Linked DNA regions of Homo sapiens: all the other regions are linked to region 2. The links come from fine-mapping of genetic effects on gene expression. A gene starts in region 2. Each other region holds a variant in brackets. All regions are shown on one strand. Distances are between the middles of the regions.

Region 1 (8,195 bases), 59 kb after region 2:
AGGTGGTGCTTAAAATCCTAGGGCTGGAAGAGATCTCCTAGGGAATGCATGTAGACAGGACAGAGTACAGTGGGGTAGAGTGAAGTGGAGTAGAAGGATGACATCTAATTATTGTGGCAGGTCAACACTTTGATATCAGGGAGAAATGAAAGAGTAACTAATGAGTTAGATTTTAAAGCAGGAATGTATGGTGCCTCAAAGCCCAGTAAAGCATTTCATAAAGTAGGAATGAGCAACTGTCAAATATTACTGAGCTATTTAGCTAGTGTTCAGCTTGGTGAAAAATGAGATTTGACTACTGGGTTTGGTAGGTTTGGGGGAGAGATTTGAGGAGAGTTGGAATTGGAATAAAGTATTATATTTGGAGAATGAATCTGTATAAAATTAGCTAATACAATAAAACTTGAAGACTTTGGAGCCTTTTTAGTCTAGCAAAGAAGTATCAGCTAAGATTAATGGTTAAATAAAATGTAAAATCAAATTTCAGAAGTTAAGAGGGCTGCTTACAAGTAACCTATAATAGATTCTTTGATGTAAGATAGAAAAATTAGTTACGAATCTGCCATTAGGGTTTTATACCCCATTCGAAATGGTTCAGCGTATTCCTAGTATCTTCAAGTGAAGTGGCTTGACTATTCTGAACCTTCATCTTTATTGAAAGGCTTTAAAATTGGCTCTTAATGATTCTTATGTCAGTGGTCTCTTATTCTGATAGTTTTTCATTAATAACTTTTTGCTCAAATCTTGATGTCTTTTCTTTAATTCACTATTATCAGCCAATGCTAAAATAAAACATACTCTATGTAATATAAGATAACAAATGGAATCAATGAATCAGTTACCCCGCATGGATCTGTAGCTTCTATGTGAAGTAATATGGGGTTTTTAAGTTTCTTTTTCCATAGAGTTCAGGAGGTGGAGAGGGCCCTCTGTAGAGAATTTGGTCTGTTAGGTTGTTCCTTTGTAAAGGAATGAAGATTCCAGAAGATGTGATGGGAATGACTAGTCAGGGACAGCAGTGTTAGGAGGTTGTGTTGGGAGGAAAAGCACAGAACAGTATTGCAGTGAATATATACTGGGGGCCCAAAGACTTACGTTGTGTGATGCTGATGGCAGGATCTAGGTCTAGTTCTAACTGAAAATGTGGTGAAGAGACATTTTAATTGGAAAGAACAGAGACTCACTCAAAAAGATCCACAAAAGAGAATGGGGCAGTTATTAGACAAGTTCAGGGACCTTAGGCATTGCTTATGTTCCTGAAAATTGGACTGCAGGTGTGGGCTTGAGGCAAATTTAAGTTGTGTGTTTATTTTTCTATCTCTGCTTCTTTTTATGTGTTTGTTTTGTTTTCTGTCTTGTACAGACTGCAGCATTCTCAGGGTTTTTTTCTTTTCTTTTCTTTTCTTTTTTTTTTTTTTGTCTCTACCGCATATAAAACCAGCTTTTACTTGGCTGTCATTGTCATCTTTAGCTCAAATGTCAGATGACCTTTAAGCTTCACTGCCTGTCATCGACTGACAACTGTGCACTGTGTTTTAGTTTTAAGTACCTAAGAGTAAGAAGAACCTTATCTAATTCACCCCTGCCTCTTTGCTCCCCAGGCCTCTGAATTCTGGTTAGTCTCCATTGGCTGCCCTTGGGTCCATTGCCAATCCCTAGTTCAGCCCCTCCTGGGGAAAGGAAAAGAGAGTCTCTGGGCAGAGCAGATTCCCTTAGAGAAAAAGCAGTGATTGAGCAGGCAGTGGCCTTATCTAGTAGTTTTTCTTCTTACCTTAGAAGTTTTATGATTAATTGAAATTGTAAAAGCTTAAAATTTTGGAGGAATGGCATGAAGCCCCCATGGCTAGTGGAACGAGTGCGGGAAGAGTGATGGGAGATAAAGTCAAAGAGGTCAGCTAGGCCAGGTGATATAGAGCCTTGCAGGCCATGGAATAGAGTGTGAATTTTATATATGTATAGTTGTATATATTCTTATATATAAAATATATATCAGATAAATAGACACATTTGTTCATATATAAGAAATACATAGGGAAAAAAATCGTAGGTTACTTACCAAATGGATAATAGCTATGTGTCTCTGTGGAGGAAGAGAATGACCAGACAAGAATGGGGGTGTGATCAGACTTTATGTGTAAATGTTTAATAAAGGGGAATATAGTCATGTGCTGTTTGTGGAATTCAAAGTTAATTGAAAGAGGTGGGGACAACCTATTCCCTGAAGCAAGTTCCTGTGGAGTATAAAGATAATTTACTTGCTTTGTAATTTTGTAAGTGTGTGAATTTGCTTGTTTTTTAACAATATGTTTAATTCCCCCCCGCCTCTTTTTTTGCCTTTTTTCTCTAGGGAGTTGGTCTCTCAGTCCATGGGCAATTTCGAGTGGCTACAGAAAAGTGTCTTTTTGCTATGCCAGAAACTGCAATAGGTAAACAACCAGAATTTTTTTTATAATTACTTTTAGCATCATCTTCTTTTGATATGTTTCAGAGTTTACTGTTGTTGAAGGAATTGATGGACTCTTGTGTGAGATGCAACAATGAAAGGATTTTAAAAAAGAAATTAAATAGGAAGATACTTTGAAGTCTATATTAGCTCAATGATTATATCTGAAAACACAAAACTGAGAACATTAAAGGAGACATTAACACACTATAAATAAAACATTAACACTATAGATAAAATATCATTAAGGGAATATATTTTTGCCTTTAGATCTGTGCAGTTTTGAGTTGTGATCAAAACTATCATATGACACTTCTGAGTTAATTTTTGTATATGGTGAGGGGTGTGGATCACCTATATAAGTCAAAGTTTATTTTGTATATGGAAATACAATCATTCCAGTACCAACTGTTGAAAGGGTATTGTTTTGCTACTGAATTGCCTGTGTAGCTTTGTTATAGTTGTCTATAGATGTCAATCATGGTGCCAACACCATGTTGTCTTGGTTAGTGTTGCTTTATAGTTAAGTCTTAAAATCAGGTAGTGACAATGTTCCACCTTTGTTCTTTGTATCTTACCAAGTTGCTTTGGCTATATAGGTTCTTTATCTTTCCATATGTATTTTAGAGTTACTTGTCGATTTCAACAAAAAAGCCTGCAGATGAATTTAGAGAGAATTGACATCTTAACACTATC[G/A]AGTCTTTTCAGACCTGTGGGCAAGATATAATTCTTCATTTATGTAAGTGGTCTTTAATTTCTCTCAGCATGGATTTTTAGTTTTCAGTTTATAGGTCTTATCTTTTGTCATATTTATCCATAAGTATTTCATATTAATGATATTTTTGAATTGTTAGTTACCAGTCTAAAGAAATACAGTTGATTTTTGTATTTACCTTTATCATGCAGACTTGCTAAACTCACTTATTAGTTTTAGTTGCTTTAGATTTGAATTCGATTCTACTTTACTGGAATTCCTAAAGAGACAATTATGTCATTCACAAGTAAGAGCAGTTTTACTTTTTCCTTTCCTTTTTCTAATCTGGATACCTTTTATTTCTTTCTCTTGCCCTATTGCGTAGAATAGAACTTCCAATACAATGTTGAATAGAAGTGGTGAGAGTGGACATTTTTTCCTTGTTCCTGATTTTAGGGGAAAGCATTTAGTCTTCTACCAATTAAGTTTGATGTTAAGGTATATATTTTTCATTTAAGATAAGGAACAAGACAATGATGCCTGCTCTCATCATTTCTGTTCAATGCTGTATTGAAAGTCCTTGCCAGAGCAATTAGGCAAGAGAAAGAAATAAAAGGCATCCAAACAGGAAAAGCAGAGGTGAAACTGTCACTGCTGATGACATGCTCTTATATATATATGGAAAACTCCAACAGCTCCAGTAAAAAACTGTTTGAACTAATAAATACAGTAAAGCTGTAGGATATAAAATCAACACATAAAAATCAGCATTTCTATACACTAACAACAAACTATTTGAAAAATAAGAAAACAATTTCATTTACAAAAGCATCAAAAAGAATAAAATACTTAGAAATAAATTTAACCAAGTAGGTAAAATCTGTATGGCGAAACGACATCCCTACAAAAATAACAAAAGATAGCTGGACATGGTGGCGTGTGCCTGTGGTTCCAGCTGCTCAGGAGGTGGAGATAAAAGGATGGCTTGAGCCCTGAAAGTAGAGGCTGCAGTGAGCTGAGATCATGCCACTGCACTGTAGCCTGGGCAATAGAGCCAGACCATGTCAGTCAGACAGACACACACACACACACACACACACACACACACACACACACACACACACATCTGTATACTGAAAACTACAAAACTTTGATGAAAAAAATTGAAGAAGACACAAATAAATAAAAAGATATTACATGTTCATGGATTGGAAGAATATTTTTAAAATGTTCTTACTACCCAAAGTGATCTACAGATTCAGTGTAATCCCTATCAAAATCCCAATGTCAGTTTTCAAAAAAATAGAAAAAACAATTCTAAAATTCATATGGAACCAAAGAAGACTGCAAATAGCCAAGATAATCTTAAGCAAAAAGAACAAAGCTAGAGGCTTTGTATTGACTTCAAACACTATTGCAAAGTTTTAGTAATCAAAACAGCATAGTACTGGAATAAAAATGAATACGTAGACCACTGGAAAAGAATAGCAAGCCCAGAGACAAATCCATATATTTGCAGTTAAGTGATTTTCAAGAAAGATGCCAAGAATACATAATGGTGAAAGGACAGTCTCTTCAATAAATGATGTCAGAAAAACTGGATATCCATATGCAGAAAAATGAAATTAGACCCATACCTCATATTATATTTTAGAAAAAAACCTCAAATGGATTAAAGATGTAGTCATACAACCTGAAACTGCAAAACCACTAGAAGAAAACATATGGGAAAATGACGTGACATTAATCTGGTCAATAATTTTTTGGCTTTGACGCCAAAAGCTCAGGCAACAAAAACAAAAATATACGATTGTTGTCGTATATACACATGTTGTTGAATCTATCCAACATCCAGGCTACACTGATGCAAGGGGTGGCTCCCAAGGTCTGTGCATAGACAAATAGAATTACATTATGTAAAACGCTTCTAGAATCACAGCAAAGAAAACAATTAGCAGAGTAAAGAGGCAACCTATTCCAATCTCTGCTCGTTGCCTAGTTCCCAAGTCACTTCTACATTTCCAGGTATCTTTATAGCAATGCCCTACTTCTCTGGTACCGGTTTGCTGTATTAGTCCATTCTCACATTGCTATAAAGAACTACCTGAGACTGGGTAATTTATGAAGAAAAGAGGTTTAATTGGCTCACAGTTCCACAGGCTGTACAGGAAGCATGATTGGGGAGGTCTCCAGAAATTTACAGTCGTGGCCAAAGATGAAGGGGAAGCAAGTGCATCTTCACGTGGCTGGCAGGAGAGTGAAGGGAGAAGTACTGCACACTTTAAAACAACCAGATATCATGAGAACTCACTCATTATTATGAGAACAGCAAGGGGGAAATCTGCCCCCATGACCCAATCACCTTCCACCAGGCCCCTCATTCGACACTGGGGATTACAATTCAACATGAGATTTGAATGGGGACACAGAGCCAAACCATATCAGGGCCTTTCAAGAAATTTGTCAATTTGTTAGCATAAAGTTGTTCATAATTGCTTTTTTGTATGTGTCGCCTGAAGTTCACGTGTTGGAAACTTAATTCCCAACTCAGCAGTGTTGAGAGTTGGTACCACTAAGAGGTGAGTGGTTCATGGGGGCTCTTCCAGTTTTTGCAGGTTAGTTCCCGATACAGGGATGACTTCAGCCCCCTTTCCTTCTGCTCTCTTGTCCTGTCTCACCCTTGCCTTTTGCCGTGGGATGATGCACCAAGAAGGCCCTCGTGTGATGTTGGCACCATGATATTGGGCTTCCCAGCCTCCAGAACTGTGAGAAATAATTTTTTTTCTAAATTACCCCGGTCTGTGGTATTCTGTCATAGCAACACAAAATGGACTAAGACAATAATATTCCCCTATTATCTTTTTAATATCTGTAGACTCCTTAGTGATTTCTGGCTCTCTTATTCTTGATATTGGTCATTGTGTCTTCTCTTTTTTTTTCCTGATCAATCTAGTTAGAGGTTTATTAATTTTATTGATCTTAAACAGATTTTTGTTTTCATTTATTTTTTATTTTGCTGATTTCTGCTCCAGTATTCATTCCTCCTTTCTTCTGCTTATTTTAGATTTTGTTTGCTCTTCTTTCATTTCCTCAGGTGAAACCTGAGTTCACTTGTATGAGATGTGGGTATGGAATTCGATTCTACTCTGGTTTTTAATTTCAGTAATTTAAAGATGTTACTACACTGTCATCTCATTTAATTTCCTACAGAAAGTCTTCTCTCTTCCTTATTTTTGTTCCTGTGTCTTTTTATTTTCTTTGGCTGCTCTTAAGATTTTCTCTTGATCACATGTTTCAAGCTATTTGATTATGATGTGCTTTGGTGCTCTTCATATTTCTAATGCTTGTGGTTATTGAGCTACTTAGGTTTATAACTTCTGTCAAATTTGGAAAATTTTCTGCCATTATTTCTACAAATACTTTTTTTCCACCCATTCCGTTTTCAGGAATTCTGGTCATACTTCTATAAGGCTCACTTATGCTTCATTCATTAAAAACATTTTTTTTCTCTCTTTCATTTTAGATAGTTTCTGTTCCTGTGTCCTTAAATTCATTAATCTTCTCTTCTACAAGATCTAATCTGCCCTTAATCTCATCCAGGTATTTTTCAGCTTATACATTCATTTCAGTTTTCATCTCTAGAAGTATGATTTGGTTCTTTTTCTGAAAAGAAAAATTTTCTGTGTCTCTAACTTCTTGAATATATAGGTTATGTTTGTGATAACTGTGTTAATGTTTTTGTCTGCTGGTTCTTACATTTATGTCGGTTCTTATTTTTTTAAATCCCCTTTTAATGGTTAGTATTTTCCTGCATCTTTAGATAGCTGGTAATTTTTTATTGAATTGTACATATTGTAAACTTTACTTTGTCGGGTGCTGGATATTTTTGTATTCTTTTAAGTATTTTTGAGATTTCTTCTGAGATGAATTTAAATTCCTGGGAAACATCTTAATATTTTCAAGTGTTGTAAGATTTATTATTATTATTTTTTTTTTTTTTTGCAGAATTGGAGCAGTGGTCCAACTAGGGCTAATTATTTCCCACTACTGGGGCAAGATCTTGCTTTGTGTTCTGCACAGTGCCCCATGACATCAATCATGAGTTTTTCTAGTCCAGATGGTGGGGAACATGCTGTTTTTAGTCCTGTGTGGGTTCCCAGTACTGTTCTCTATAATCATTTTCTGTGATTCTTTCCTTAGTCTCATGTAGTGATATGGTTAGGCGTTGTGTCCTCACCCAAATCTCATCTTGAATTGTAATCCCCGTAATCCCCATGTGTCCAGGGAGAGATCTGGTAGGAGCTGATTGGATCATGGACGCAGTGTCTCCCTTGCTGTTCTCATGATAGTGAGTTCTTACAAGAGCTGATGGTTTTATAAGGGGCTCTTCCCCCTTTGCTCCTCACTCTTTTTTCTCCTACTACCATGTGAGAAGGTCCAAGCTTGCTTTGCCTTCTGCCATGATCGTAAGTTTCCTGAGGCCTCCTTAGCCATTTGGAACTATGAGTCAATTAAACCTCTTTCCTTTATAAATTACTCAGTCTCGGGTAGTGTGAAAACTGACTAATCATGTAGTTTCTTGACACACACACACACTCTCTCTCTCTCTCTCTCTCCATTCCTAAGCTAAGTACTTAAAAGAGACACCCTGCAGATCTCCAGAGCTTTCTCTCTGCAGCTCTCTCCGCTCTGGTACTCTGTTGTGGGAATTCTAGCTGTCTTGGTTTCCCTAGACTCAGCTTCATCTTCTCAAATGAGGCACTGTGCTGGGCCTGGGAATTCACTCAAGGCATGAAGTTGGAGCTGTTGTAGAATTTACCTTGCTTGTTTTCTGATATTCAGAGACCACTTTTCTTTATTGCTTGATGTTCAGTGTGTTGAAAACACTATTGATCCATATATTGTGTCTGTTTTTATAGTTGTTTCAGGTAGGGGGATAAGTCTGGTTCCTGTTACTCTATCTTGTCCAAAGTATAAGTCTCCCAGATGGCTACTTTAAATTGGATGATTAAAGATGCTCTCAGAGGAGTTGTCCTTTAAGCTGAGATGTGAATAGCA
Region 2 (8,195 bases):
GGGTCATATGGTCTCTCTGTTTAGCCATTTGAGGAACTGCCAGACATTTTTCCAAGATAGCTGTACTGTTGTACATCACCAGTGGTGTCTGAGGATTCCAAATTCTCCTCACTAACACTTGTTTTTTAAAAAATTATGGTGGGTGTGAAGTCATTGTGGTTTTGATGTGTATTTCCCGATGGCTAATAATGTTGAGCATCTTTTCATATGAGTATTGATCATTCATATATCTTTTTTGGAGAGCTGTATAGTATATTCAAATCTGTCATCCATTTTAAAATTTGGTTATTTAAATTGTGATAGTTCTTTACATATTCTAGATAGCCTTTTATCAAATATATCATTTATAAACATTATTCCTCATTCTGTGGATTGTATGCCACCAGAATTCTTTTCCAAAATGATACAAACTCTTGAAAAAAGGGTCTGGCTGTTTCACATAAAACCAAACATTGATGTACCCTATAACCAAGACATTCTATTTATAGATATTTACCCAAGAGAATAGGAAACATATGTCTACAATAGATTTACACAAGAATGTTTACAGCAGCTTTATTCATAATAGCCCCAACTGGCAACAGCCCAGGAATCTATCAGGAGGAGCACAGATCAGTAAACTATGGGGTATTCATATAATGAAATACTACTCAGTAATAAAATGGAGGAAACTACCGATACACACGATATGGACATTTTGCTAAGTGAAAAATGCTATACAAAAAAAGCGCACACTGTATGATTCCATTTTATATGAATTTTCAGAAGATGCAAAACTAATTGATGGTAGAGAAAAATCAGACTGGGTGCAGTATTTAACACCTGTAATCCTAGCACTTTGGGAGATCGAGGCGGGGAGATCTTTTGAGCCCAGGAGTTGGAGGCCAGCCTGAGTAACATGGCAAGACTCTATCTCGCAAAAAAAAAAAAAATACAAAAATTAGCTGGGTGTGGTGGCATGTGCCTGTAGTCCCATCTACTCAGGAGGCTGAGGTGGGAGGATTGCTTCAGCCCAGGGAGGTTGAAGCTGCAGTCAGCTATGACTGTGGCACTGTACTCTAGCCTGGGTGATAGAGTGAGACCCTGTCTCAAAACAAACAGTGGTTCTCGAGACAGAACAGTGGTTGCTTCTGGGGCGGGGGTTGGGGTGGGGAAGGCAGTGGTAGGCAGAGAATGTCTGGGAAATCGTGAGAGGAAACTTTTTGGGGTGATGACAATGGTTTATATCTAAGGAATTTTGGTTACACAAGTGTATACATTTGTCAAACTCAGTGAATGTACACTTAAGATTTGTGCATTTTGTTGTATGTAAATTTTGTCTCAAAAGGGAAAATATGTAAACAAATATTTAACTCTAGGTAGTAAGACACATGCCATATTTTGGGAGAAGTAAAACGATGCTTGTAATTAACTTTGAAATGCATTTAAAAATAAGGTATTTGGGATAAGGAATAAAGCAAGATAAAATGTAAATCTAGGTAGAATCTATGTGGTGAGCACATAGGCGTTTGCTTTAAATTTTTATAATTTTGCTATATGTTTGAAAATCTTCAAAATAGAATGTTAAGATAATTTTCTTTAAAGGACTGAGGTTTCTAGAGCGGGAAGCCAGAAGACGATAGCATCATTAGAAGAAATAGAGAATTTAGGAATAGGAAGGACAGCTTGGTGGAAGGTGTGGCATAACTGACAGGTCTTGATACCTACGAAGTCCTAAGTAATTTATGCACATATTTCTATATTTCAATGGATCTTCACAAACACCTCTAATCATCAGCACATCCATTTTCAGATGAGAAAATGGAGGTTCTGAAAAGCTATATAATTTGTTCAAGGTCATTAAACTATTAGTGTGCTAGGGGTAGGACTGATTACATAATTTGCAGGCCTAGTGTAAAATGAAAATTTGTGTTTCCTTGTTCAAAAATTATTAATAGCACAGCATTAAAACAAGCACAGGGCCCTTCTAACGATGAGGCCTTGTGAGACTCAGGTTTCACACACATGAAGCTAGGGCGGCAAGGAAGATTTGAATCTCAGTCTGACTAACAGGAAAGCCCATGCTTTTTCCAGTAAACCATGCTAGGTCAGATGAATGGTTCATTTCTGTGCGCAGTGAATGAGGCATGATGGTGATGTCAGATGGTGATGTCCTGTAGCCAGTTAAAAACCAAATTGCAGGTAAGGAGTTCCTTCTGTGATGTCTGTTGTCTGTCCTCTTCTCAGTGGGCATTTGGTTATTACATTTGACCTAGGTTAGCAACGTAATTTTTGATCAAAGTCTCAACAGTGTATCTCTTTAAATATCAAGGTACTAAGAATAACTCCTTTCATGTGTCCTCTCTGAAATTTGTCACCGGATTTCTTCTTTCTGATAAATGTGTCAATACTTAATAGTGGCGATGAAATGTCTTCTGCTACACATCTGGGTGGATCTGGAAGCGGAGGAACGTTTTCCTCAATTTAACAGTGGATCCTAGTAGTTGAGTTAAATGTTGGTTTCATTTAAGAGTAAGCTACTTTCTGAATGTAATTATGCTTCCACTGATAACAGCAACTTTTACTTTAGTTGGGAAGACATATCTATTATGTCTTAATCAGACAACTCTTGTGTGTCTTTGAGGAAGAGTGGGAGATCTGTAACTTTTCCCAAGAAAAATGAAAATGTCTCAATCCTAATATTAAAGGAATTCGGCTGTATTGGGTTAGGAATGAATAAACTACATCGATGTCCTTTATCAACTGTAATTCCTCTACTTGAGTCTCAAAGAATACTAAGTTTACGTTTTAATAAAAAATTACTAAAATTCCAGAAAAGTCTTTCACATCAGTCCCTGCTGGTCAAATTGGCAGGCCAAGCCTAGACAACAGGTTGCGCTTTGGGCTAAGACAGCCTCTAGAGGGCAATCTCCTTTCCTGCGAATCCGCCCTAGTCCGTTCTATCCTCCCTCTTCCCGCTCCGCCTCAGCTCGCTCTCCGCCTTCTCCCTGGCCCGGTCCCCGATCCCTTCCTCTCCCTCAACTATTTCCTCCAGGCGTCGTTCTTGCCCCGCCCTTCCCCGTCGCGTAGCGGAAACGGTCGCTCTGGCTTCCTGGAGGACTTGTCATCTGTGCCCGGCGGCGCAGGACGGCGGTGGGCGGGGCTCACGCGAGGCGCTGGAACGGTCCGGGAGATTCTCGCTCTGCTGCTTTAGCTTCGGAGTGTTTGGCGATGGGGCAGCGCGAGATGTGGAGGCTCATGTCGAGGTGAGTGAGAGAGCGAGGGGCCAAGGGCAGGCTCTTCAGCGGCACTCGCCACAGTGGGAAAAGGGCCGGGGGTGGAGACTGCTGGCCTCGAAGTTTCGAGTCGCGCTCAGAGGCGCCGCTGTGAGACCCCAACCTTGGCCCTCCCCAAGCCCCAGCCCCCGTCCCTGTCTTTCCTTTCTCCCTCTAGCATCTTCTTTGCAGCAGCACTCTGGTTTTCTGCCACTCTGGCTCTTAATTCAGGCTTGTCCCCACACGACTTTAATTCTTTTGGCCTCAGTTTCTTTCCTTTCTTAAAAGTTGGGTGCAGTCTGGGGACACGGACAGATTTAGCTTAGCGGAACTGTGCGGCATGTTTTGTGCAGCCAGCACACACAGGTGCTTTGCCAGTTGCTGCACCTCTCTCTGCCCGTGGTGTGATTTTATTCAGCTTTCTTGCATGGCTGCAGCGTCAGTATAGGCATTTGGAACTTTCAGGCTAGTGTTGAGGGACATTTAACGTGGCATGGGGGAGCATGTTTGCAAACATTGTTTAACTTTTTGAAAGTACCCCTCACTGCGCTTTGAGCTCAGCCTAGGAAATCTGGTAGCCATCATCTTTAGGCTGCATGCGCCTTAAACAGCCCACTGCCTGGCCCTGTACTGTCATACCAGGTAGCAGCTGCGCCCACTTGAAGGGAGAACCGTCCTTATTTCTTTAAAATAAGGACGACTTAAATTACTGGATTCTTTAAGCCTTAGAGTTTGCCTTCTGGGTTTCCTGAAAAGGGATGGAGGTGTTTCCTTGACTTAAGAAGAATAGTTTCAGGGGAAAGTGTCTAGATGTCTAACACTGTATCCACAGACCTAATTCTCAGTAAATTTTTGTTATACATTTAAGAGTTGCTTTTCTGTTTGTTTTTTTAATACCTTAAAATTAGTTGTCCTTGCACCAGCTCATGGAGAGATTTAGTAAATGCTAAGAAAATCAGTACACGTAATCGTTACTGCCGCTTTTTCAGTGTTGTCAGCAAATAGCAAATAGAGAAACAAACTGGAAAGACATGTTTGTTAAAGTTAGCTGACTTAGGAAAGGATCTGTCATTTCCACAATTCAGCTTGGCTTTCTTCCACCCCACGTTCCAAGATGCAGTACTCTGTAGGTGAGGCCAGGACCATTTTGGGGGCTTTGATCTGAGATGCCTTTTCCAGACTCAGCCCTGAAGTGGGTATTATCCTAGAAAGCAGAGGCCAAGATGGTCCAGTCCACAATACCCTAACCCACAACTGTATAAGGGAATAGGGTGCCACGGAAAGTGTTTCTGAGAGGAAAAAAGGCCTTGGGCCATGGTTGACAGTGTTGGGCAGCCCCACTTGAACTCTGGCCTCCCTTGGCTTCTTCGGTACTGGCCTACTTTTCTAATGCCACTCTCCACCGCCTCTCCTTACCCCAGTGCCAGTTTAGCTCTTGGACTTTTTTTTTTTTTTGGTTCCCAAATCATCTGTCTTAGGGTAACTCAAATTTTTGTCTAACCTGACTTGCCCTGAGCTCTAATGCTGGTCACAACCCTCTGAATGCCTCAGTTGCACCTCATATATAAATTTGCACTTAAGGGCTAGGCGCGGGGGCTCACACCTGTAATCCCAGCACTTTGGGAGGCCGAGGCGGGCATATCATCTGAGGTCAGGAGTTCAAGACCAGGCTGGCCAACATAGTGAAACCCCGTCTCTACTAAAAATACAAAAAAATTAGCTGGGTGTGGTGGCAGGGCCCTGTAATCCCAGCTGCTTGGGAGGCTGAGGCAGGATAATTGCTGGAACCTGGGAGGGGGAGGTTGCAGTGAGCCGAGATCATGCCACTGCACTCCAGCCTGGGCGACAGGGTGAGACTCTGTCTCAAAAAAAAAAAAAGGAAAAAAGGAAAAGAAAAATAAATTTGCACGTAAGTATAACCCTTACTCTTTGTCTCTCTTGGCACTATCATTCTTCTAGATTCTCAAACTTACCTAAGTTCTCCCACACTCCCAAACCTTAACCTCTTCCTGTGGATTCAGGTTTCAACAGTAGTCTCAAAGTTAATCACTTTTTCCTCTTCCCAGTGTGAATTGTTTCTGTACAAGATTGCCAGGTTAATCTCGCTAAGGTTTTACTTCAGTGCCTGCCATTCTTCTCAGAATCTCACAGAGGTGCCCTTCTGCTTATGCAATTAAATACAGTTTTACCAGTCTGGATTTCACAGATTTGGCCCCAGTATATTCATGGATGAACAATTACCTACTGTTCTGTTCTACTTGCTGGGAAGCACAGTTCTAGGCATTTCTATTATCCTGTAGCCACTCTGGACTACTTGGTTTTCCTACTGTTCCTTATGTAGGGCCCTTGGAGTCTGAAAGGAGAGCAGATAGGAAACACATAATTAGACAAAAGTAATTTTTGATTACCAATTCTGGTAAGTGTCTTAAGGGACAAGTACAGTTATGAGAGCCAGATTTAGATAGGGAGAGGGAGTCAGGAAGCCTCATCAGAGAGGTTGCTCTTCGCTGGGTGTGGTGGTTCATGCCTGTAATCCTAGCACTTTGAGAGGCCAACATGGGAGTTCAAGACAATCCTGGGCAACATAGCAAGACCCCGTTTCTACAAAAAATAAGAAATAAAAAAACTAGCTGGGTATGGTGGCATACGCCTATCCTTCCAGCTTGGGAGGCTGAGGTGGGAGGATCACTTGAGCCACAGAGTTCAAGTTTACAGTGAACTATGATTGTGCCACTGCCCTCTAGCCTGGGCAACATGGAAAAACCTAGTCTCTAAAAATAGAAATAACAGGAAGAGGGTACTTTTAGGTTGTTAATAGGCCTCATTGCCTTTTCCATCTCCTCCATCCTCTGCTGAACTGTATTGTTTTGGTTCTTGCTCTTTGCCTGTCTTCTCTTTTACTTCTAGTTAGTTGTTTCTTAGTTGATCAAAGGCTCAATCTTTGTTGCTCTTTTAGGTTGTTTTCTGTGTTAGGAATCATGAGCCTGAATGCAGAGGCTGAGAAGGAAGCATTGAAAGATGCTGGCTAGATGGCAGCATGGGGGACTGGTGAACTGGAGAGAGTGCTCTAGAGAGGAGGCAGCTTCTCAGCCCCAGCCATTGTTGCCCTTATAGAATATAGACCCAGGGTTTCCATTATTACTGATTTTTCTGGAAAACCTGGAAAAAGTGCAGTTTTAGGTGAAATGTCTTGATTTTTAAATGTTAGTAGTTTTTTTCTGTTTTTCTTCTTTTTAATCTCTACCATTCCATCCAGATAATGTTAGTAGTTTTAAAACTGCTCGGCTGGGCATGGTGACTCAAGTCTGTAATGCCAGCACTTTGGGTGGCTGAGGCTGGAGGATCACAGCCCATGAATTTGAGACCAGCCTGGGCAACATAGACTGTCTCTCTACAAAAAATTTAAAAATCAGCCAGGTGTGGTGGTGTGCGCCTGTAGTCTTAGCTGTTCAGGAGGCTTGAGTCCAGGAGATTGAGGCTGCATTTGAGCCCATGTATCATACCACTGCACTCCAGCCTGGGTGACAGAGTGAGACCCTGTCTCTAAAAATAAATAAATAAATAGAATACAAAAATAAAATGCTGCTGACCAATACCACAGTTACAGTTGGCATCTTTCTGGCAATTAGTTTTCAACTGCAGCCTTCTCATTTATTCCTTACAGAAAGCTGAGAGATTCCAGTGTCTCAGTGATTGTACATGCATGTGGCATAAGATATACCTTTAGTTCTAACTTTTCTTTCAACCTCTAGTCTCTTTCTTCTGTTGACTATTTCTGCTTATGTCAGTACAAATTCAAATTCAAAAAATTGAATTTGTATTTCGTCCTGCAAACCAGCTAGCTTCTTTCCCTGTCTTTTCTATATTCTCCTGGTTGTCCTGGCTTGAAATCTTAAAGTCATTTTTGACATTCCTTTCCATTGAGTTTTTACTTTATAAAAACTCTTAATAATATCACTCCCTTCTGTTTCCACATCTGCTGTTCTTCATCACCCCATGCCTAAATTATTGGCCTCCTGGACTTGATTTTCTGCTCTGTTCACACCTTGCCTACTTCTGGGATAATAATTTTCACTAAGCACTACTTTGTGATGTCTTCTTCCTGCTTAAGCAGTTTCATGTAGTTGTTTAATTTCGTGAGGCCATGTTTGTTTTATTGGATAATTGCAAAAAGTTCCTGAGTGATAAAGTTCTCATCTAAGACAGTTGTTTATTTAAACTTCACGCATCATAACCACCTGGAGGGTTTGTTAAACACAGATTTCTGGGCCCCACAGTTTCTTGTTCAGTAGGTCTGGGGTGGGGCAGAGAATTTCAGTTTCTAGTCAGTTTCCAGGGGATGTTGATGGTACTTGTCCAAGAACCATACTTTGAGAATAACTGTTCTAAAAAGCCAAGTTGACATCAGTTGAAGGAAATAAGCCTGATAAAGTTAATTAAGAAATTAGAAGTAGCAGGCCGGGCACAGTGGCTCATGCCTGTAATTTCAGCACTTTGGGAGGCTGAGGCGGGCGGATCAAGAAAGAAGTCAGGAGATCATGACCATGCTGGCTAACATGGTGAAACCCCGTTTCTACTAAAAATACAAAAAATTAGCCGGGCATGGTGGCAGGCACCTGTAGTCCCAGCTACTCAGGAGACTGAGGCAGGAGAATGGCGTGAACCCGGAAGGCAGAGCCTGCAGTGAGCCGAGATTGCACCACTGCACTCCAGCCTGGGCGACAGAGAGAGACTCAGGCTCAAAAAAAAAAAGGAGCGGAGAGGTGCATGCCCTCTTCCTCTCCACCAGATGGCAGTTTTGGAACCAATAGAAAAGAAAGATCATAAATTCAGAATTACCTGGGGACACTGAATTCTCAATTACATTTTGAGGTATAAAAGCTAATATCAAATTTTAAGTGACAGCTGAATTTGAATTAGAACGAATGGGCTGGGTGCGGT
Region 3 (8,167 bases), 130 kb after region 2:
GAACGCTTAAATCCATGCAAAAATCTGCATATGGATGTCTGTAGCAGCTTTATTCATAACTTTGAAAACTTAGAAGCAAGCAAGATGTCCTTCTTGGTGAATGGGTAAACTGTGGCACATCTAAACAATGGAACATATTCAGCATTAAAAATAAATGAGTTAGGCTGGGCATAGTCACGCCTACAATCCCAGCACTTTGGGAGGCTGAGGCGAGTATCATTTGAGCCCAGGAGTTCAAGACCAGCCTAGGCAACATAGCAAGACCCCGTCTCTACAAAAAAATTAAATATGAAAAAAATTAGCCAGGCATGGTGGTGCACACCTACAGTTTTAACTACTCAGGAAGCCGAGGTCACTTGGGCCCAGGAGTTGGAATTGAAGGTTGTGGTAAGTTAAGATTGATTGCACCACTGCACTCCAGCCTGGGTGACTGAGCAAGACCCCACCTCAAAAAATAATAATCCAGCCATGGGAAGAAAAGGAGGAACCTCAAATACTTATTACTAAGTTAAGCCAATCTGAAAGGGGTACATGCTGTATGATTACAACTATATGACATTCTAGAAATGGCAAGACTCTGGAGACAGTAAAAAGACCAGTGGTTGCCAAGGGTTATGGAAGAGGCTGAGATGAATAGGTGGAACAGACAATTTTTAAGGCAATGAAACTATTCTATATGATACTAATAATGGATTTCTGTCATACATTTGTCAAAAACCATAGGTTGTACAACACCAGGAATGAACCCTAAAATAACGTGGATTTCAGGTGATTGCGATGTGTCTAGTGGGAGATGCTGCGTGTGTGTGTGTGTGTGTGTGTGTGTGTGTGTGTGTGTGTGTATACACAGGATACGTGGGAACACTACTTCCTGCTCCATTTTTCTGTTAACTTAAAACTGCTCTGAAAAACAGTCTATTATTTTTTTAAAAAATACACCCACTATATGCTATCTATAAAAGATACACAACTTAAAACTGACAAACCCACAAGCATAGCTGGAGACTTAAAACATTACTAGAATAGTCAAAGAAAAAATACGTGTTCTGAACAACATTATGCTCCAACTTGAGTTGATATTCACAGAACACTACACCCAACAACTATTACATATTCTTATCAAGTGCATATGGAACATTCACCAAGATAGACTATTGGTAGTCTCAGCAGATTTCAAAGGCTTAAAACATTACACAGTACAATTTCTAACCACCCCAGAGAGTAAAATATCTAGAAAAGCCTCATATATTTGGAAACTAAACATATTTCTAAATAACCCATGGGACAAAGAAGAAAATCACAGGAGAAATTAAAATATAGTTTCAACTAAACAAAAGCCAAAACATCAAAATTTTGAAATGCATTAGTTTTAGAGCTTAGAAGGAAATTTATATACTTAAATGCTTATAATAGAAAAGAAGAAAAGTTTAAATCAGTGATATAAGCTTTCACCTTAAGCTAAAAAAAGAAAAGCAAATTAAACCCAAAATAAGTAGACAGAAGTAGGTAAGAACAGAAATCAGTGAAGCATACGATAGAGACAACAGAATGAATGCTGGTTCTTTAAAAAGATCTAATAGATACATCTCTATACAGACTGATCAAGAAAAGTCACATATTAAGATGTGTAATGGGCATTATGACATCTATATACGTTTAAAAGGCAAACAGGAATAATATAAACAATTTTATGCCAATATCAAATTACCAAAATTGGCACAAGAAAAAAATGATAGCCCTACATCAATTAAAGAAATTGTAAATCTTTCCAAAAAGAAACCTCCAGGCCCTAATGGCTACACTAGAGAACTCTTACCAAGGCCATTACGAGGAAGTAATACCAGTCTTATCTAAACTCTTCAGAAAAGAGAGAAAGAGGAAAGAAAGATTTCCCGAATTATTCTATATGAGGCCAGTATTACCAAGAAGACAAAACTCCACAGGCCAATATCCCTCATGAACATAGACCCAGAAGTTGGCAAATTGAATCTAACGTGTAAAATGGATAAAACATGATGACTGAGTGGATTTATACCAGAAATTCAAGGATATTCCAAAGACAATAGATATAATTCACTATATTAACATAAAAAAAATCAGATGATCACCTCAGTAGAAACAGAAAAAAAATTTTGATAAAATACCATTTTTTATTTTTAAAATCCCAGCAAAGTATTAATAGGAAGGCCTTCCTCAAAAGTAATGTTAGTGGTGAAAGACAACACTTTTTCCCTATGACAGGAGCAAGGCAGCAATAGTCATTCTCATGATTTCTGTTTGATATTTTACCGGAAGTCCCACTGAGTATGAGGAAGGGAAGACATACAAAGCATAAAGATTGAGAGAAGGAGAAAACTGCCATTATTTGCAGATGACAAAATTGTATAGAGAAAATTTTAAAGATTATATGGCCTCCCCCCAAAAAAAATTTACTGGAATAATTGTAGCAAGGTCTTAACATATAAAAGTGACATATAAAAAGTAATTTCTACAAACTTAGCAGAAGATGAAATTAATGCCATTTGCAATAGCATCAAAAACATGAACACTTAGGGATAAATTTAACAAAGCATATGAAGGAAAACTGCATTTTGTATTGTGTACGTTGTACGTGAAAAATACAAAATGTTACTGAGAAAAAGTAAAGAACCTAAACAAACAGACAAATGCTGTTCATGATCTGAAAGACAATATTCTTAGTCCTCCCCAAATTAACATGTATATTCGGCAAAATTCCAGCAGGCTTTTCTGTAGACATTGACAAATGGATTCTAAAAGTCCAGTCAAAATCCCAGCAGGATTTGTTTTATATATATAGATATATAGATACACACACACACACACACACACACACACACACACACACAGATTCTGAATTATACATGGAAACACAAACTAGAATGGCCAAAACAATTTTGAGAAAGAACAATAATTTGGAGTACTCCTATTATCTAATGTTAAGAATGACTATAAAGCTACAGTAATTAGTGCTATATTGACAAAAGGCTAGCCACAAACCTATGAAACAGAAACAAGTCCAGAGATACACCCATAAAAATATGGTAAACTGATACTTGACATGTCCAAAAACAATGAATGCAAAAAGGATAATCTTTTCAACAAATGGGATTGGAACAATTGGACATTCACATACTCTCCCCCCACCAAAATCTACTTATACCTTATACTTTATAGAAAAATTAACTCAAAAGGGATCATAGTTTTAAATGTAAAATGTAAAACTATAAAACAAGAAGACAAAACATTTGCGATCTTGGGTTAGGAAAAGAGTTCTTAGATGTGATACCAAAAGCATGAACCATGAAAGAAAAAAACTGGTAAACTAGACTGAATCAAAATGAAAAAGATTTGCTCTGGAAAAAAAAACACAGTTAAAAGATTGAAAAAAAAACAGCAAATATAAAAAATATTTGCAAGTCATCATCTAGCCAATAAATGACTTGAATCCAGAATATATAAGTATCAAAACTCAATAGCAAGACAACAACCCAGTTTAGAAAACGAGATTTGAAAGATTTAGGCAGTTCACTTGGTACCACCTATAGATAGCAAATATAAGTACATGAAAGATGCTCAATATCATTAGCCATTAGGGAAATGCAAATTACAGCCATGATAAGAAACCACTATGTAGCTGTTAGAATGGGTAAAAATAATACCAAGTGCTGGTGCATATACAGAGCAACTGCACTCTCATACATTGCTGGTGGGAATGCAAAATGACATGGCCTCTGGAAAAGTTTGGCAGTTTCTCACAAAGTTGGAATAACCACATAGAAGACCCAGCAATCCCACTCCTAGAAATTTACCCTAGATACATGAAAATTTGTGTTCACATAAAAAAATTGTATGCTGGCTGGGGACGGTGGCGCATGCCTGTAATCCCAGTATTTTGGGAGGCCTTGGTGGGTAGATCACCTGAGGTCAGGAGTTTGAGACCAGCCTGGCCAACATGGTGAAACTCTGTCTCTACTGAAAATACAAGAAAGTTAGCAGGGCATAGTGGTGCACACCTGTAGTCCCAGCTGCTTGGGAGGCTGAGGCATGAGAATCACCTGAATCCAGGAGGCAGAACAGAGGTTGCAGTGAGCTGAGATCACGCAACTGCACTCCAGCCTGGGTGACAGAGTGAGACTCCATCTCAAAAAATAAAGAAAAAAAATTGTATGCAAATGTCTGTCACAGCTTTATAATTGCCAAAAGTTGACAACAAAGATGTTAATGTACACCAATATGGATGACTCAAAGGCATGCTGATTGAACAAGCTAGTCTCAAAAGGTTACTTATTTATATGACATTCTGGAAAAAGGCAAAACTATAGGGACAGATGATAGATTAGTGGTTGACAGGAGGTTGGGGGTAGACTGTGACCAAAAGGGCAGCAGGAGGGACCTTTTTTGGAGTGATGTAACTATTCTTTATCCCGATTGTGGTGGTGGCTGTAACAAATCTAAACATGCGTTAAAATTCATAGACTTGTTCACCAAAATGAAGTCAGCTTTACTGTATGTTAAAAATTTTAAAAAGGTATTTTTTAAAACCACAATATAATTACCCACACTAAGATTGCTAAAATTTAAAAAACCCCAGTGCTTAGTGTTGGTGAGGACATGCAACGCATATATTGCTGGAAGGAATGTAAAATGGTACAACCATTTTAAAGAATTCCTTGGCTGTTTCTTAAAAAGTTAACCACACACTTACCCTGTGAACCAGCCATTTCATTTCTAGATATTTATCTAAGACAAATGGAAACACAGGTATTTTAAAAATCTGTATACCAATATCCATAGCCTCTTTATTCACAATAGTCAAAGCTGGAAACAACCCAAATGTCCATCAGTAGGCAAATCAAATGGATAAACAAATTAGGGATATCCT[C/T]AAAATGGAATATAACTTGACAATTAAAAAAGGATGAACTATTGGTATGTCAAACCACATGGATGAATCTCAGACATGTTGAGCCAGATAAAAAAGATGGATCATATTTATATGAATTTCAAGATTGGACAATAGTGACCCTATGAATAGAAATCATAGTAGTGATTCCCTTTGGGTGGGAAGAAGTAAGGACTGTTTGGAAGAGGCCCTGAAATAACTTTCTAGGCTATTAAAAAATTCTATATCTTAATTGGTATGTTAGTTACATGAGGTATATGTTAAAACATGTTAGATTGTACCTTTAACATCTGTTTACTGTATTTCACTGTAATTTTTACTTTAATAAGATATAAGAACAGTTTTTGAGAACATTCTGGGGCACCTAAATCCAGGGGACTGATGTATTTTATCTGAAAAAGACCGCCTATGGGCAGCATCCAGAGCGGACCAGCTCCCTGTGCTGGAGGACTCCAGTGTGAGGCCTGCTGCTTCCTTTCTACATTGGCCTGAAACCAGCCCAACTCAGTGGTCATAATCTTCTGGGCCTACCGAAGAGCAAAAGCCTACTTCTAGTTCTTCCAGTTGCCAGTTCAAGGGCTTTATCTGTCACTTCCTTTGGGAACAGGTAGAGTGCTTTGATTTAGAATGATGGCAATAAATGAGAAACCAATTTGAAATTGGATGTGAGAGTCTTTTGTCCTTTATTGTGTTGTTCCTGAACTTGTAGCTAAGGAGGGTAGAGTAGAGAGAGGGATATATAACCTTATCCAAGGAAATAGATTAGTAATACTTCATCCCCACCACACTTTAATTTGCACATATTTCTAGAGTATAGGACATCAAAAATACCTAGATATTAAAATATTTATGTTGTTAACCTTCAGCTGGTTTAGCCGTATCTATTAAGGATAGAAAACAACTGTTCTTCAGTTACTTATCACATCTGCTTACTAATTTATGTTATGTTTATCATCTCTTCCCATCTAATAGATGAAACAGGCAGATAGGTCTGGCTCTTCCACTTGCTGACCCAGAGTTCACATGGCAAATAAGAATGGAGCTGTCACTCCGAATTCCAGCTTCTTCTTGGAATAAAAGTGCTCCAACGGTACTTTATCCAATCCAGCCTATGTTTTTAAGTGTTAACTTTCTCCCTTTCTTGAACTTATAGAACCTCTGTCCCATCTTTGAAGTTAATTCTTGCCGGTAAAGACCAAGATAGCTCCTTCCCAGGGTCTCTGTTTCTTTCTTCTCATTGCCCCTGTCCTTGACCTGATCTCTGGGCTATCAGCAAGAACGTGATGGCCCAGACCTTCCCAGTCTCCCAAACAGGTCTCTGGGTACTACTACCCCAGGACTAGTTCTCAAATCTGGCCTTCAAGTCCTGTGTTGGGAAAAATGACACTGATATATTCATGTAATTAGGTAATCATCTGGTCCAGTAACTAGCTATCTAATGGAATTGCTCATGGCATGCTGAGAAGGTGCAGTTGCCCTAATTGAATGGATTAGTAAACTGCCCCCACATATTTGTTAATCAGATTTTCATGCTATAGTTTCCATCCCACAGAAGCCTCAAGATTTATCATGAATAAAAAAGCATCATCCTTAAAGTAAGAGCCAAGAGGGAAAAAAAAGTTCATGTGAAGCATCTACTGTTCATAATAGCAGCTGTTTAAATACTTTTAAATACTTAAAAGGCAGTTACAATACAGTACTTTAAATACTTAAAAGGCAATTACAGTATAAGCCTGCACACCAGTGAAGAACAAACTTCGTATAATTTCAATCACTCCTAATAAGATAGTTGATTCATAAGGAGGAAATAAAGTTTCAACAATGTTAGCCATTAATGCAAGTCAGTGGTTAGGCAGCTATGATTAGCCTTAAGATAGCAGGTGTGATCAGCTGTCCTGAATTAATTTTTAGTCTGTTATTCATTTGTCAGGTTGGGAAGTGACTATGGTCATCAGTTGAAGGTGTGATACATTAAATGCTGCATATCAACCAGGAAGTGTTTTGGCCTTCTTGTCATTTTAACTGGCTAATTACAGAAATATAAAATGTTTAAAAAACACAGTTTCTCAAAAATATTTAAATCAATCTTTTATACCTTAGTTCTCAAGATACACAAAAGAACTATCAGAGCATCCCTTAACCATCCAACCAGTCTATATTGAGTGTCTACTATGTGTTTAGAACCTGCGCCCATAGAATGTAAGTGCTTCCAAAATTAACAAAATCAAAAGGAGAAAGAGAATATAATTTATTCAGGCTATAAGTATTAAAATCTAACAGTGCCCTTCCACCCACCACTCCCTCTCCCTCTGTCTCCTACCCCTCAAATCACAATGCACAGACACATATATACACATGACAGTCATACATGAGGAAAAGAAAGCCCCTTTACATGTTTCAATGTTATTTGAAGGCTCAAAGCTCTAAAAATATAGAATGAGCCCTGACACTATCCTCAGGAAGAGATCTAGCAACAACTGGGCCTTCTGTTGGGTCCGTCAAAGAAAAAATGTGATTTACTGCAGCTACCCACCTTTTTTCTCCTAGAGCCAGGGTCTCAGTCCATCGCCTGGGCTGGAGTACAGTGGCCAGTTGTGGCTCACAGCAGCCTCGAACTCCTGGGTTCAAACTATTCTCTGGCTTCAGCCTCCTGAGTACCTGCGACTATAGGCACGTGCCACCATGCCCACGTTATTTTTTATATTGTTTGTAGAGACAGCCATATTGCCCAGGCTGGTTGTGAACTCCTGGCGTCAAGTGATCCTTCTGCCTTGGCCTCTCAAAGTGCTGGGATGATAGGTGTGAGCCACCATGCCTGCCTAGCCCTTCTTTATAGTTCATTTTGTAGCTGTGTTCCTCCATTCTGGGTGCAGTGTCATCAAAAGGAGTAAATTCCTTGGGAATATGCCAGTGGAAGGTATCACAAAAAGGCCATAATTTGGACATGAGTTGGACCCAAACACAAAACCAGCAAAAAAAAAAAAAAAAAGTAACTTCTAAAATCTGCTGTGTAAACGAATAGGCTGCTAACTCCCCAGAAGTCCATCTTAAACACTGGATTAACAGGGATGGTTTATTTTACCATTGTCCCATTTTATGTCATATTCTTAAGCCTTTACACAGGTTTCTAAGATGCCTTATATCTCAAGTTATTGCTTAAAATTGGTCTCACCCTGAATTAATGTAAATATATAAAAAAACCATGTTGTGGTCTTTGAAAAAGTTTTATGCATATATATATAAAAT

Evidence for each region. PIP is the estimated chance that this variant, and not a neighbour inherited with it, causes the effect.
Region 1: its variant is fine-mapped to the expression of HIBCH in whole blood (TOPMed, PIP 0.94).
Region 3: its variant is fine-mapped to the expression of HIBCH in tibial artery (GTEx, PIP above 0.99).

What each region holds. Positions count from the first base shown.
Region 1 is chr2:190,255,387-190,263,581 of GRCh38, reverse strand. HIBCH (3-hydroxyisobutyryl-CoA hydrolase) reads left to right here. Exons shown (of 14, transcript NM_014362.4): 7 at 2,348-2,426. Among named protein-coding and RNA genes, the nearest start is that of HIBCH, 60 kb to the left of the region's middle. The variant G/A (reference allele first, on the strand shown) is at 3,140.
Region 2 is chr2:190,314,766-190,322,960 of GRCh38, reverse strand. HIBCH (3-hydroxyisobutyryl-CoA hydrolase) reads left to right here and starts at 3,135. Exons shown (of 14, transcript NM_014362.4): 1 at 3,135-3,245. The coding sequence starts at 3,211.
Region 3 is chr2:190,187,153-190,195,319 of GRCh38, reverse strand. The region is part of intron 1 of AKAP19 (A-kinase anchoring protein 19); the gene reads right to left. It also overlaps a transcript of HIBCH not described here. Among named protein-coding and RNA genes, the nearest start is that of AKAP19, 10 kb to the right of the region's middle. The variant C/T (reference allele first, on the strand shown) is at 4,904.